Linked DNA regions of Homo sapiens: region 1 is linked to region 2. The links come from fine-mapping of genetic effects on gene expression. A gene starts in region 2. The other region holds a variant in brackets. All regions are shown on one strand. Distances are between the middles of the regions. Region 1 has its middle 22 kb from the start of HEATR1. Region 2 holds the start of HEATR1 (HEAT repeat containing 1).

Region 1 (4,394 bases), 22 kb before region 2:
ATATTAGGCTTGTAAGAGTCTGTCATATTGCTGTGCGTTGCAATGGTTTGTTTGTTCTCATTGCTGAATAGTATTCCACTGTATGACAGTTTCACAATGTATATGTTTATTCTTCTGTTGATAAACATCTGCATCGGAAGCAGATTATGCTATTACAAAATATGCTGCTATGGACATTCTCAAACATGCCTTTCGGTGTTCGTACGCACACATTTCTCAACATTTCTGTTGAGTATATAGCATACCTGAGAGTTTCAGTAATGAGAAAACAATAATTTTACAGAATATTTGTACCAATTTGTACTTCCACCAGCAGTATAACAAAATGTCAGTTGTTCCACATCTTTACCAACATTTGGTATTGCCTGTCTTTTTAATATTAGCCATTCTGGTGGGTGTGTAGTGAAATCTCACTGTGGCTTTCATTTGACTGGTTACAAATGCTGTGGAGAACATACTTATATGTTTATTAGACACATTCAGATATTGTCTCTTTAAAAGTGCTTGTTCAAGTCTTTTGTTATTTTTTTCTATTGAATGTCTATTTTTTCTTTTTGATTTGAAGCAGTTCCTTAAATATTCTGCATATGAGTCATTTGTCAGATACATATGAATTACAAATATTTTCTCTGTTTTGCAGTTACTATTGCACTAATGATGTTTTTGGTAAACAGCCCATCACTACTCCTACATTGCCAGTTGCTAGACTCTGCTTCCCAATAGGGTCTCCCCATTTCCTCTGGGCCCTCTCTAATGCTGACTGCTGCCTGTAATCTTGCCTTCAGGGCAATGTCCCCTGCCGGCTGCACTGAACACCTTTAGAATCCAGTGCACCTGCTCCTGTCCTTCCAGGGCTGGTCCTGTCCTAGTGGGCAGATCTGGTTCCAGGTTCTGGCACCTTCCAGTCTCCTCAGGCCTCCCTGCAGTTAACTAGCTGTGCCCAATCGTGTTCTGAAAATAAGTTCAGGATGTCCAAACAATTGACTTATAAATGAACTTTTGGAACCCATGACTTTTTACACCAGAGGAGTCCTACACATTCTATTTATTTCTGCCTTAGTCACCTAGGATCAAGTACCTCCTGTAGCCAAAGGGGACTGGGACATTAAAATCATGATTGTGAATCACCAAGACACCCGTGCAAATTAGTACTAGCCCATCAATCCACAGAAGAAAATATACCATGGGAAAATGAAATCCTTATGCCAAATCGAGACATTGAGAAATTCAGCAAATAATTATTGAGTGCCTGATATGTGTCAGTCACTGTTCTAAATATTGCAGAAGTAACAAAAAGGAAAAAACCCAGACACCAATCTATGCACACATGGCACTCATTTTAGATGGAGAAACAGGTAGTAAACAAGCTAAATAAATAACACAGTTAGTATGTTAGGTAATGAGTGCTAAGGGAAGGGATATAGGAGTGTCCGATGGTGGTAATGGGTTGTTAGTAATTTTAGAGGGACTTCCAGGTAAGAGTTCACCAAAAAGGTGATGTTTGAGCAAAGACTTGAAAAAAGGAGATAGCTATGACATTATCTCAGGGAAGAGCATCGAAGACAGAAGGAACAGTGAATTCAAAGGCCCTGAGGTGAAAACATGTCTAGTGTTTGGAAAAACAGCAAGCAGAACCAGGCACAGTGGCTCATGCCTGTAATCCCAGAACTTTGAGAGGCTAAGGCAGGTGGATCACTTGAGGTCAGGAGTTCGAGACCAGCCTGGCCAACATGGTGAAACCCCGTCTCTACTAAAAATATGAAAAAAATTTGCTGGGTGTGGTGGCACACACCAGTAATCCCAGCTACTCAGGTGGCTGAGGTATGAGAATCAGGTGGCATGAGGTATGAGAATGAGGTATGAGGTGTTGAATCCGGGAGGCAGAGGTTGCAGTGAACCGAGATTGCACTACTGCACTCTAGCCTAGGCAACAGAGTGAGACTCCATCTCAAAAAAAAAAGGAAAGAAAGAAAAAGAAAATCAGCAAGCATCCAAGAGATGTAGATGGAATTATAGTTATAGCTGTTATAAGAAGAGCAGAAAGCAATAGGGGAAGAAGTCAAAGAGGTATAAAAGAGGTAAGGTCTTATAGGTCATTGACCTTCAATATGATGCAGAGAACATACTTACATGTTTATTAAACACATTCAGATATTGTCTTTTTAAAAGTGCTTGTTCAAGTCTTTTGCCCATTTTTTTCTATTGAATGTCTATCTTTTCTTTTTGATTTGAAGCAGTTCCTTAAATATTCTGCATATCAGTCATTTGTCAGATATACATGTCAGCTGTGCTAATTTGGTAT[C/T]GTGGATCTCAGAGGCCAAGTTGCCATATGTGTAGAAAAGAAAGATGGCTGTCATTTGAGTTGTTAAGAACAGCATGCTGCAATACCAAAACATCAAGCTGTACATCTCAAATATGTATGATTTTCATATGTGAATCACATCTCAATAAAGCTGTTAGGAAAATAAAATTACCATTAAGTTTAAAAAAAAAAGAAAAAAAGAAAAAAACAACCACAGTCGGGGCAAGGGCCATGTTACTAGGGCCAGGGATTTGGCCAATGAAGCAGGAACATAGAGATCCTAGGTCCATAAGGAAAAGAAGATTCAAGGAAGGCCAGGACATGGGAGGGAATGAACAAACTCCAGTCCTAGAGGTTTAGCAGAGACTAGCTGGCTTCTTGCAGTGAATTAATAAATGAGAAAAAAATCTGAGATCACAATAAAAGATCTTTACTGGTGCAAGGGTCACTTCTCACCGCTGTTTGACTGCTTTGGGTCATTCTTTAGTACCTTAAGTTTTTTATATTTTGTGAAGATTTTACTATTTTTTATCTGCAAGAGAGTAAGTTCAATCAAGCTATTGCACCATTACTAAAAGTGAGGCTTCTTTGACTATTTTTTTTAAGAGTTGGGGTTTGCTCACTCACCCAGGCTGGAGTACAGTAGTGTGATTATAGCTTACTGCAGCTTCGAACTCTTGAGCTCCAGGGATCCTCCTGCCTTAGCCTCCTGAGTAGCTAGAACCACAGGCACACTCCACCACGTCTGGCTAATTTTTAAAAATTTTTGCAGAGACTGGGTCTTTCTATGTTGTCCAGGCTGGTCTTGAACTCCTGGCCTCTAGTGATCCTCCCACCTCAGCCCCCAAGTAGCTGATTACAGGCAAAAGCCACCATGCCTAGCTCACTTTTACTATTTTTTACAATTCAAGATGTTGTCTATCTTTTTCAGCTACTCTATCCTGATTAATAAATGTTCTGTTAGTTTTGACTTATATTCTTCTTTTTGACTGGTCGTTCTCCTTAAATAAGATGTATTTTTCTTTGTTGGCTCCCTGAAGGCTCTGGTCTTATATTGAATTACCCAAGTTGGCAGTACTTTTCATGTAATGAAAGCTAAAGCTGTCTCTACTCCTGTGGTTGGCAGTGTAGAAGCAGGCAAGTTAACAATTCCAGTAAGGATCATGGACAAAGTCTTCTGTTCTGTTTCTTCTTACTTTCCTTGTCACAGGATCAGTAAACACTCGAGGCATTGTTAAACTTTATATTAGTTTTTTCTTTTGCTGTGTAACAATATTATCACAAACTTGCTGGCTTAAAACAACATAAACTTATTATTTCACAGTTTCTGAGGTTCAGGATTCCAGACACAACTAGACTGAGTCCTCTGTCTTAGGGCCTCACAAAATTGTGATCAAGATGTCATCTGGGCTGCAGGCTTTTCTGAGACTCGACTGGGGAAGGATCTGCTTCCGAGCTCATGTGGTTGTTAGTAGCATTTGTTTCTTTGTGGACCATTGGACTAAAGGCCTCTGTTTCTTGCTGGGTATTAGCTGAAGGAGTTCCTTAGGTCCTTGCCATATTAATCTTTCCAGAATCATTTGTTTTCTCAAAGCCAGCAAAGTAGAGTCTCCTGGAAAGATTGATGTTACAATCATATGTAATGTAATCACTTACATGTAATCACACATATTCTGTCATGCAGGCTGTATTCTGTGGATTGAATCAAGTCGCAGGTCCCACCTACACTCAAGGGAAGGGATTAAATCCAGGAGGCAGGGATTACGGAGGTCATTTTTAGAATCAATATGCCACAGTCTGCCCTGATTCCCAGTGATTCATGCCTCTCCCACATGAAAATATATTCACCCCTCTTAAGGTTCCTAAGAGTCTCATCCCACTGCAATGTGTGCTTGAATTCAGAATTTCAAAATCTAAATAAGATCCAGGTGCAGGTGAGGCTCTTTAGATCTGGTTCCTCTCCATCTGTGAGTCTATAAAACTAGAAGTTGGGGGAAAAAGAAATCAAGATCCACAAAAGTATGCCAGTTCATAAATACAGAATTAGCTAAATTCACTATCAAGCAAAAGCGCATGCATCCACAAAAAACAT
Region 2 (4,394 bases):
CCGGACAGGAATGATATAATTAAATGCAATCAGATTTTGCTGATTTTCATCTATGTAAAAACATTTTTATTTTGCCATTATAAATGTTTACTCACCAATATTGAGAGTTATAGCATATCCTAGTTAATAATGTGTTAAGTTAATTTATAACTTTTAAATATTTACACCTACAGCAGTGAGTCCATCTGTACTCTTTCTCAGGCTCCATAAGTCTTAGGGATGGGCTTTATGCCAACGTGCTGAAGCCAATATTATAGTGAGGGAATACAAGAAATAAACAGGTAAACAAACAGACAAATCAGGTCATTTCAAGTAGTGATAATGGCTATGAAGAAAATACCAGCTTGGTACATCTGTCCGTCAGATAAAAATATATAATTCAAGATTATTACATTTTTTTTAAAACCAAAGCTTTTTTTTAAAAAAAAATTACATTTATGAACATCTGACTTGTTTTCCTTTTTACTTTCCAAAGTAAAATTCGGCATGGCACTATACACCATCACAGCTGACATAGGAAGGACTGAGTCAAATCTTTGTAGCACTTTTTCAAGTTTCACTTAAATAAAGCTTTTAAAAAATATATAGGGTATTTTTTAAGCAAAAAAAGCAAATTATCTTATCAATGAAACAGACCTGGTGTTCATTTCTTTTAAAGTACCGAAAGCTGATTGCTTCTGTAAAGGTAAAACTCCTGTGACATGTTAGAAAGAAAAAAAAAATTCCTTTGAGAGATATGTTTGTAAGAATGAAATAGGTACTACTAGAATTTTCATGTTATTCTCTGCAAGGCACTCAACACCACATGAAAAGAAGATTATTAACAGTCAGTAGAAATACTAATAACTGAAGAAAATATTTGGTTGTTTTAAATGCTTTTAAAGCAAACCAACAACAAAAGATTCTGTTTGTAAATGGGAGAGAATCTGCATGAGGTATAGACAACCAGGGCCTCCAAATTTGTAGCTGTGTTTCTGACATTCTCCAGGGAAGACGGTTACAGAAAGACTTGACCCCCTGGCCCCGCAGAGCTCTTCAGAGAAATTAATGCATCCAGAAAAGACAGAGCATCAGATCTCACTCCTTCGTCTGGAAGACGTCAGTTCATCCTAGTTCTAGCGCATACCGGTGTTTTGGAAACAGATTAGCTATATTCATACATAAGGATACTCTTCCGCAACACTATCTGTAGTGAGGCCAAGACCAGTGGTTGCGGGAATCTTCGCAAACAGGCAAGAGACAATTTTTAGGGGCGATGGAAACTGTCATTTTGACTGGGGAGGTCATTACACCTATACATGCATTTGCTAAAAGTCATCAAACTCTTCCACTGACGTGGGTGTAACCATTGTTTGTAAATTATACCTCAACAGGATTCGATTAATTTATTTATTGAGACAGTCTCGCTCTGTGGAGTGCAGTGGTGCAATCTTGGCCCACTGCAACCTCCGACTCCCGGGTTCCAGCGATTCTTCTGTCTCAGCTTTCCTAGTAGCTGGGATTACAGGCGCCCGCCACCACGTCCGGCTAATTCTTTTATTTTTAGTAGAGACGGGGTTTCGCTATGTTGGCCAGGCTGGTCCCGAACTCCTGACCTCAGGTGATCAGCTCGCCTGAGCTTCCCAAAGTGCTCGGATTACAGGCCGCGCCTGACTATGATTCGTTTTGAAAGAAAAAAATATATGCCATTTACCCCTCGGGAATGGAAACATAGAGGAGTGACAAGATCTCCCCCAAGCTCTGGGGCGGTGGAGTCCAGCATTTATAGATCGGTTTGCACTAGGAGCAGAAGCTCCTTTCACGACAATCTCGGCCTCTTCCCACTTTGTAGAGTGAGTAACAAGCTCGGAGAGATGAAATAATTTGGTGGCGTTAACCCGGCCGACAGGCGCCAGCGCCAGGATTTGAACCCAAACCACGTGACTTCACAACCCATAGCTTTCAACACTACGCGGTGCTGCTGGCACCTAGTAAAGGCTGGATCACTACTGAATGAATGATTCTGGCTACGGATCCTTAAAGCCCACAGAAGGCCCATCCAGAGACCGAAAGCTTCAGACACAAGCCGCAGAGCAGACCGCTAAACCGGAGCTACAGAGGCGAAGCTCAGACTTGAGCCTGAGTCCGGCGGGCTGAGGGGCGGGCTTTCGTCTCGGGAGGCGGAGCTGTCTCGTCGCATTCCCGGCAAGCTTGAACCTCTTCACTTGCCGTAGCGCCTGCAGCAGGAAGTTGCTCTACAGCATGCCTTAGGTTTCCGGGTGAGGGTTGGGCTCCTTGGTACCATGTGGGAAGCGCTGTGAAGAGTTGTTGCCTTCCAAGATATACCCAAATTCCCAGTTCCAGGTAAGCGGCACAGAGCCGCTTGATGTGGCTGCGGATGGGGGCGGCATATCGAGGGAGGGTAAGAGTTTTCCGGATATCTGCGGAATCAGGGTTGAAGGAAAGCCTTGGCGCGGTCGCCGCTACTGTAATTAGTTGTTAACGCTGCTGCCATCGTCTTTGCATCTCCGGGGTCCACAAATCTCAGGACACCCGCGTTGTGTGTCCATGACGGTGCTGAGTGCAGAAGAGAATTGTTTGTTTACGAGGCGCCTTATAATTTCGTAGAAACTTATCAAAGTGCTTACGTTTTTTTAGCCCGTGTCATTAAAACTCCGCTGGCGTGAAAGATGACGTCCTTAGCCCAGCAGCTGCAACGACTCGCCCTCCCTCAAAGTGATGCCAGCCTCTTATCTAGAGATGAAGTTGCTTCTTTGTTATTTGACCCTAAGGAAGCGGCCACAATCGACAGGGACACCGCCTTCGCCATTGGTGAGCCATCTTTTAACTTAGAAAAGCTCTTGGAAGCGTTTGTTTTCTGGATGTTACTGTTTTTTTTTTTTCCCCTTGTTTTCTCTTCTGTCCCGTCCTCTTCCTTAGCAGTTTCTAGCATGTTGATGTATATTTTTAAGGGAAAGAGAACATAACAGTCAGGTGCTTGGTGCTTGAAATGTTTATGAGTAGAGGTATCTGGATTTCACAGATGAAGAAACAAAATTAGAGAGGTCAACTAATATGTCAAAGAGAAGAACAGCTAAAAGGGGGATGGAGGCAGTGACTGGGGTGACGGAGAAGTCCTCTCAGAGGACTGGCCTAGTTATTGTAGGGGATATCCAAAAAAAAAAAAAAAAAAGTGTTCCCTGCCACGAAGTACTTTCTGTTCTAGTAGATGAGATAGGATTTACTCTAAAAGTTGAAAACTAGAAATCAGTGTTTGGGACTGTATTATAAATTATATGTACTTAAAGAATTCAGAAACTTCTTAGGGGTAAGTAAAACTGTAAAAGAGGGGTGGGATGAATTTGCTTACGAAGAATTGTTAAATAAACTGGCCTTTTTTGAAATTTAGGATGTACTGGCCTGGAAGAGTTGCTTGGAATTGATCCTTCCTTTGAGCAGTTTGAAGCACCGTTGTTCAGTCAGCTAGCAAAAACCTTGGAGCGAAGTGTTCAGACCAAAGCAGTAAACAAACAGTTGGATGAAAACATTTCATTATTCCTTATTCACTTGTCGCCTTACTTCCTGCTTAAGCCAGCACAGAAGTGTCTGGAGTGGTTGATTCACAGGTAGCTAATAGAATTACAGAAATAACTATGGGTTAATCACTTTGGTCTTGTAAAAAATTAAGTAGTTGAGAACTTATCAAATTAAAGCTGAAAAATTAGGTATATTAAGAGATTGATACAATGTCCATTGTGTGAGATAAGCATGCTCTTCTGCCTTTAAATTCTTTTTTGTTGATAGTGAAAAGTAGAACTACTGGTGATTTTGAGTAAATGGTCTAACCTCATTAGTTTTTTTTTGAGATAGAGTCTTGCTGGGCACTCAGGCTGGAGTGCAATATTGAAATCTTGGCTCACTGCAACCTCTGCCTCCCAGGTTCAAGTGATTCTCCCACCTCAGCCTCCCAAGTAGCTGGGATTACAGGCACCTGCCATAATGCCTGGATGAGTTTTGTGTTTTTGTAGAGATGGAGTTTCACCGTGTTAGCCAGGCTGGTCTTTAACCCCTGACCTCAGGTGATCCACCCGCCTCGGCCTCCCAAAATACTGGGATTACAGGTGTGAGCCACCTCGCCCAGCCTAACCTCGTTAGTTCTGAAGAGCCCATGCTACTTTGCCATTACAGCTTGTTCCTGCACACTTGAGGCAGTGAGTACTAAGCTGCTTTCTTGGCAAAATAACAAGATGGTTGGGGAAGCAGGCAATGTTATCCTCTGAAATACCATTGCTTGAGAAAAACAATGATAGCTAATGTGTTTTTGAGCATTTATACACTAGGCCCTGGTAAGCACTTTATCTGCATTATCTCATTTAATTCTCACAGCATTCCTCTGGTGAGATTATTTGTATTAT

Evidence for each region. PIP is the estimated chance that this variant, and not a neighbour inherited with it, causes the effect.
Region 1: its variant is the best candidate, but not a certain one, in a credible set for the expression of HEATR1 in whole blood (TOPMed, PIP 0.52).

What each region holds. Positions count from the first base shown.
Region 1 is chr1:236,624,469-236,628,862 of GRCh38, reverse strand. No RefSeq gene overlaps it. Among named protein-coding and RNA genes, the nearest start is that of HEATR1, 22 kb to the right of the region's middle. The variant C/T (reference allele first, on the strand shown) is at 2,303.
Region 2 is chr1:236,602,371-236,606,764 of GRCh38, reverse strand. HEATR1 (HEAT repeat containing 1) reads left to right here and starts at 2,249. Exons shown (of 45, transcript NM_018072.6): 1 at 2,249-2,343; 2 at 2,638-2,811; 3 at 3,389-3,605. The coding sequence starts at 2,670. RefSeq lists an enhancer at 2,049-2,308.